2 linked regions of the Homo sapiens genome follow. The protein of the gene in region 2 interacts with the protein of the main gene of each other region in a pairwise test. Each region holds a gene or a part of one and is shown on either strand. Other genes may lie near its edges.

Region 1 (3,337 bases), on a different chromosome or scaffold from region 2:
TGCTGTAAGTTAAAGCTCTCTTCATTAACACTAACTTTCTCTTATTTTACTTTATTTTACTTTTTGAGACAGAGTTTCAAGTGATTCTCCCACCTCAGCCTCCCAAGTGGTTGGGATTACAGGCGCGTGCCACCATGCCTGGCTAATTTTCGTATTTTCAGTAGAGATGAGGTTTCACCATGTTGGCCAGGTTGGTCTCGAACTCCTGGCCTCAAGTGATCCCCCGACCTCAGCCTCCCAAAGTGCTGGGATTACAGGCATAAGCCACTGTGCTCGGCCTGTGAAAATTCTTAATTACTACATAACATTCTCTTGCTAGTAGCCAGTAATAGAGCTATGAAAAAAAATTAAACATTCTCTTGCATTAAGCGAAGTGTTTCAATATATTAAATGTCTGACTTTCTAAAGTGCAGGAGAAAAGGCAAATTTTTCAAAAGCAATCTGAAAATAAAACTTTGAAATGTACAAATTAATTAAAACTTACTCCCGGATCTTTTTTTCTGATCCATCTCTTCCAGGGTCATAAACTCCTTTAGGCAGATGTTGTATAAGACCTATTCTTTGAGCTATCCTAATTTGTTCCTCTTCAGTCAGCTGAGTTGCTAGCCGAGTCTGGCTAGGTGTTGGGTGGTAGACTGGAACTGGAACTTGTTCCTAAAATATTAAAATATAGAGGAAAAAGATTATTTTTTAAAAACCTTTCGAGGGCTTATTTTTTGGTCAGAGATAGAAGGGAAAGGGAGCCCTGGGAGGGGTAGGAAGCTGGGCTAGTGTTTGGCTGTATGACTGTGTTTCACCCTGCCTTAACTTCAGCTACTAGAATAAAACATACACACACCAAAACATTCTCATTCTGCCTAAAGGATATAAACACAGACTTCACTGAACTGGCATGGAATGTTAAATGAACTATTTCCACATGATAAGAGACCAGCCTGGACAACATAGCAAGACCTCATCTCTAAAAATAATTTTTAAAACTTTTTAAATGGACTGGACTATGGCAAAAATAAATCTAAAAGTTATCTAAGACTAACTTTCCCATTTCATAGGACCAAGCTTGCCTACAGTCACTAATTGACAATACTGAAATTAGAATTCTGCTGCTCCTAATCCAACTGATTTTTTACACAACAAAACAATTCAAAGGAATCGTGTGTATAACCCCCACCTTTTTTTGAGATAGGGTCTCCCTCTGTTGCCCAGGCTTAAGTGCAGTGGCACAAACACAACTTACTGTAAACTCAACCCCCTGGGCTCAAGCAATCCTCCAACCTCAGCCTCCTGAGTAGTGGGGCCACAGGGTTGAGCCATGGTGCCTGGCCTATAATAATATTTAAAACTGAGCAACTCTGATGGAATGAAGCTGGGATGGAGTGTGGCCTAGAAGGGATGAGGCTCCCCATCCCCAAGCCCTCACCTTGGTTACCTTTGCAGAATCCTCAGAATCAACAGAGCAGTCTGAAAAACACTACTATCTCAGAAGATGAGATTTTCAGTCTGAAGAATTAAATTATAAGATTTCAGTCTCAGCTCGGCTACTTACTGTGATTGCTTGGACCAAGTCTCTTAATGTCTTTGAATAAAGCAGATAACAGTACCCACTTTAAAGAGTTGATATAATCATGAGATAACTAAGAGCTTTGTAAATGCCAATATTTGTAAATTATTCTAACATCTCCCCAACGTCATGATTCTCCCCATCATGATTCTCTGCTTTGCAGACTTTAAGCTAAGTGCTACTGTCCTTGGCTTTGGTCCTGGCTTTCTGGCTTCTCTTTGAATACTACAAACTCTTGGACTCTGTTGTGATCTCTGCCAGCTCTGAGTTCTTCAACCCTTGAATTACCATTTCCAGTCTAAATTACCTTCCTGAATCTTAGCCTCAGTCCTAGTTGACCAGTTTTGATGAGCTGTCATCCACACGCAAACTGGGAACAAATTGGTTTAAGACTAAGATAATATAAAGGGTCTCTTAAATCCTTGAACCTAACAAACAAAAATAACTAAATTGTTTTAGAGAAAATAAACTCCAACTATGGGTTTTTCAGAGGCTAGATTTCTTCAGTCTTGTGGTTCACATACGTGTAGAGAACACAGAAAGCAGAACAGAAAAGGAAAGTTCTACTTTACGGGGAAACATTAATAAACATTAAAGAAGAAAATAAAAACTATATTTTAATTCACGTTATGAGTGTATTTTCTCCTTTGGTATTTTTTTGTTAAAACAAAGGAACCCTCTCTATATCTTTTAGATATTTAAAATGATTGAACAATCTAATTTCAGTTTACATGGTTCAGAAAACCATAGAGGAAAGGAAATGACTAAGACCTCCTGATATTTTAAAGATGAATGTGGCCTCACCCTTCTTACCACACATGCCTAATTTTAAATTTTAATTCCCATGATACTTGTTTTAAAATGGCTTGATATCTGAGTTATCAATTGTTTCATAACTAGACAGCCACTGATTTTCTAGGCAGCAAAATGGAATCCTGATTCAATTGTTGGCTAACAGACACTGAGTGAGTAGAAGATTAGACAGGGGTATAAAAACAACAATTTTAAAAGATGTGATGGCTGGGCATGGTAGCTCATGCGTGTAATCCCAGAACTTTGAAAGGCCGAGGCAGGCGTATCACCTGAGGTCAGGAGTTCGAGACCAGCCTGGCCAACATGGTAAAACACCATCTCTACTAAAAATACTAAAATTAGCTGGGCGTGGTGGTGCACGCCTGTAATCCCAGCTACTCAGTAAGCTGAGGCAAGAGAACTGCTTTAACCCGGGAGGCAGAGGTTGCAGTGAGCCAAGATCTTGCCACTGTACTCTAGCCTGGGCAACAGAGAGAGACTCCATCTTAACAACAAAAAAAGATATGGATTTGGGGGTGGTTCCCACCATTCCCTATCTGCGAACACTATATGGTTTATGTTCAACACCTGCTTCCCCTCTGAGAATCAGGAATTTTGTCATATGCTAGGCAGTGGGTGCCTAATCAGTACCTGGGGCACTGAGTCTCCAAATGAGCTTCTCTGGCAGAAAACCTTTCATATATGTTGAAGGAATTAAGCATGTCCTGTGTGACTCCACTAGGAGATAACTCTTGGAAGCTTGTGCTTAGTTCCCTTTAGACCAAAGCACCTTTCCCCTTAGCTGATTTTGCTTTGATTCTTTGCTGTAACAAATCATAGATGTGAGTAAGATTATATACTAAGTCCTAAGAGCCCTCCTATTGAATCACCAAACCTGGGGACTGTTTTGAGGACCTCCAACGCCAGTGCTAGGTTGTGCTCCCACTTTATATTTGCAAAGCTACTGTGTTTCGTCCCCAGCTG
Region 2 (3,311 bases):
TTTGCTAATTGGAATCTGGTTAGATAGTCTATTGGCGCTCATCTGACTTATCTCCTTAGAAGTTGGCCGCCAGGACTACTTAAATCTGGATTTGAGCGGTGGGCCCGATTCCTACCGGACTAGTTCATCTCATTGACTTTTCAGAGGTGGCTTCTTCTGCAAGGATTTGGTGTCTTTTCCAAGGAGCAACCATAACTTAAATGTGAAACCAACTTTCTGAGTGGGACACAGGGGAGCCTCTGTGCCCTGGTCTCTGCATCTCCCCTCTGCCCCCCATTCCCCTTGGGATCCAGCCACACTGACCTCTGCTGTTCCCTGCACACACCACATGGTCATGAATGCAAGCACATGGTGCCCACTGGGAAGGGAGGGGCTCACGTAGTGTTGGCCACAGCCTCCAGGTTTCCCTGAATGTCTGGGTTTCAGGCTGGCCTCAGCATTGGGAATGCCTGCTTACCATGATCATGCTGCTGAGGGTCTTGCCGTACATCTTCTTGAAGTGACATTTGATAAGATTTAAGTCAATCTCGCTCCTTGAAACGATGTTTCTTATCAGGGTCCCATCACGCGTCCCTGCTCCCTGGGCAAGACAGCAGCCATCAACAATCCTGCCTCACCTTTCCTGTCCATCTCTGAGTGATGGACGGATCTGTGTGGTTGGGTTCTGGGGCTTTTAGAGGGAGGGAGATGTGGGAAGGAGCCTGTGCTTCAGCCAGGGAAGCATTAGGAGGGAAGCTTTGGTGGCTTAGGGTGTCCACTCCCTTAATTCCTTCTCACCCACTGCCCAGAACTCTTCCTTTATGATGCCAAGTGCTCCAAACTGCAGTATGTTTGGTTTGCCACATCAGATTCTAGACACAAAATACTCACTGCTCCAGGAACAAGACTTCCTACTAGAGCAATGGCAGCAATCAGCTCAGCCAGGAATTTCACAGGCAGGGCCTTCCTGCTCACCTTCATCCCTGACCAGTCTCATGTCAGCTGGGGCCACATGGCCAAGGGAATCGCATGCCCTCTCTCATTTCCTGGGCAGAAGTGGCCAGAGGGCTTGGGTTTCGGGTGTGGAACTAACTTCAGGGGATATCAGCAACCATCAATCAGAGAAAACGGGCAATGGTTTTAGTTTCAGGGAATTATTCACCTCTGGAGATGCAGCGTCCCTTTCCCAGACTCAATTTCACCTCCGAGAACTAAAACCTTTCTGATCCACGACAGGTTTGGGTAAGATAACTCCCCCGTGTGGAGGATCGTGGTGGCTTTGAGCTCCTTGGCTTTGCACTTGGTGCTATGTAGGGTGAGCGTCAGGAAGAAGAAGACAGGACAGTTACCTTCATGGCATAGTAGAGTCTCTCTGCAAAGTAGCTGTGGAGGTTTTGGGTGCATTTCACTGGCAAACAAGAAAGCTGTGTTAATGTCTGGAGCTGGTAGGTGGCACTGCCTACAACTTTATGTCTTGCCTTAGGTCTTAAGAGTCAGTGTTGTGCAAGGCTTGGCATATTTCTTTGTTCCGTGCCTTTCCCAATGTGAGAGGCTTTGTGTCAGGTGGCGTGGGACAGGGAAGGTAGCCCGGGGCACTGGGCACAGCTCCAAAGGCCCAAGCAGGCAGGCAAAAGGGTAAGATGTGAAATGCACCAGACTGTGGGGCTCGTCTGAAGACACCAGCTCAAGCCCATCCAAGGGCAGCTCAGACTCAGGACAGGCCCTGGGCTCTCAACCCAGAGACACCTCCACCAAAAATCCAGCCTCTCAGCTCCACAGAAGCACCATGGGATGGTGGCTGCTGGCCTCAGAGTGCCCTCTCTCTCACACTTATCAGCAGGAACCCTGCATTTTGAATTCCCATGTGACAAGTGGAGTTTGGCCCCACAGGACTAAGGCACCTGGGGGCGTCTGGTCCAGAGACTGGGCCCATGCTTGCTCCCATGGGTACTGCTCAGAGACTTGGCATCTGGGTGGGGAAGGTTGGCATTTTCACTTAGGGCTGCAGAAGGAGCATGGGCTTTGAGTGAGGTAGGCATGTGTTCACTTCCTGCCTTGATGGTGCAGTATGGCTTCATTACTCAACCTCCCTGACTCATCTGGGAAGTGAGACTGATGCGAGGCTTCAAGGTGAAGTGAATAGGAAGGCCCAGCATGACGGAGCACTGCATGGCTTCACTATTCCCTGCTGGCAGACTTCATTCTTGGTGGGTTCAGGCCAGATCCAGGGGTGGAAGCTGAGATTGGAGCAGGGGTGTGATTAGATGTCCTGACATAGACCGGATTGTATCACAGCATCCAAGGCCAGCTGGGGTGTCTCAGATGGCCCTGTCCACCCAGAGAGGCTAGGAAACAGCAGGGAGCCTGCTGGCTGCTGGCTTTGCACGGAGGCAGCCTGGTGTGGAGGTGAGAGCTGCAGGCCAGGAGTCCGGACCTGGGCTCTGTGTGTAAGTGGGAGAAGAGACGTCCCTCTGCCCTGGGCCTCAGCTCTTTACTCTGCAGTGACTCTTCCCATTGTGATCTCAGCCCTGGAACCCATGAGAGCTCTGGAGTGGGTCCTCCTGAGTGGCCCTGACTTCCTGCTGTGGGGAAGATCCCCAGTGTTTCTCAGCATCAGACCATCCGTCACTCAGTTTGGACTCAAGCCACACATCACTGTTTCTTCAACTGGCAATGAAGGCAGGGGCCAGGCCCCTGGTTCATGTCCAGAAAGATGACTTTGTGCTGGCCAGGGCTTCACAACCACAGCCAGAGTGCTCCCTGCATGGCTGCCATGAGTACACACAGGGTTGGGGCTGGCATAATCACTGGCGTATGCATTTGTGTGCGCACACACACACACTGTCTGTCTCACACACACACACTCACATTCCACCCACAGTCATGCACACACACCCTCAGGCACACACACTCTCACGCACACACACACTCATGCAGACACACCCACACAGCACTGGGCACCACGTGGGCAGCACAGAGAACAATCTTTGGCAGCACACACTGGGACTCTAGAGGTGGAGCAGTCCCTGGGTGAGGGAGACAGGCAGAGTGTGAGTCGGGGGGACATCCCGTGAAGGTGACACAGGGATTCTTTCTCTTGTGGTCGCATCCCTAGGCCCTTTGTTCTTTGGTGCTGCCCCACGGTGAGCCCTGTGGCCTGAAAAACGTGCAAGTCTGAGCTCTTACCCACAGTGAGCATGGCCTCCTCCAGTGAGCCATGGGTCTCACTCTTGATGCTGTCCTCAATGCTCTTGTTGGCAATTTTCTCATACTCTTCAAACACTGTGGAGAGGGCTCTGCTCAGGGGATGGTCAGACCTCCTCGTGATGCCC

The links. The genes of interacting proteins can lie anywhere in the genome.
Region 1: the proteins of ANXA8 (region 2) and RNF11 interact in binary tests that used the Homo sapiens proteins (3 or more experiments, as listed by UniProt).

Annotation. Positions count from the first base shown.
Region 1 is NC_000001.11:51,267,273-51,270,609, reverse strand, and holds part of RNF11 (RING finger protein 11), read right to left. Parts: intron 655-3,337; coding exon 485-654; intron 1-484. UniProt on the Homo sapiens protein: Essential component of a ubiquitin-editing protein complex, comprising also TNFAIP3, ITCH and TAX1BP1, that ensures the transient nature of inflammatory signaling pathways. Promotes the association of TNFAIP3 to RIPK1 after TNF stimulation.
Region 2 is NC_000010.11:47,470,805-47,474,115, forward strand, and holds part of ANXA8 (annexin A8), read right to left. Parts: intron 3,262-3,311; coding exon 3,166-3,261; intron 2,217-3,165; coding exon of another isoform or gene 2,158-2,216; exon of another isoform or gene 1,395-2,157; intron 1,388-1,394; coding exon 1,329-1,387; intron 581-1,328; coding exon 458-580; intron 1-457. UniProt on the Homo sapiens protein: This protein is an anticoagulant protein that acts as an indirect inhibitor of the thromboplastin-specific complex, which is involved in the blood coagulation cascade.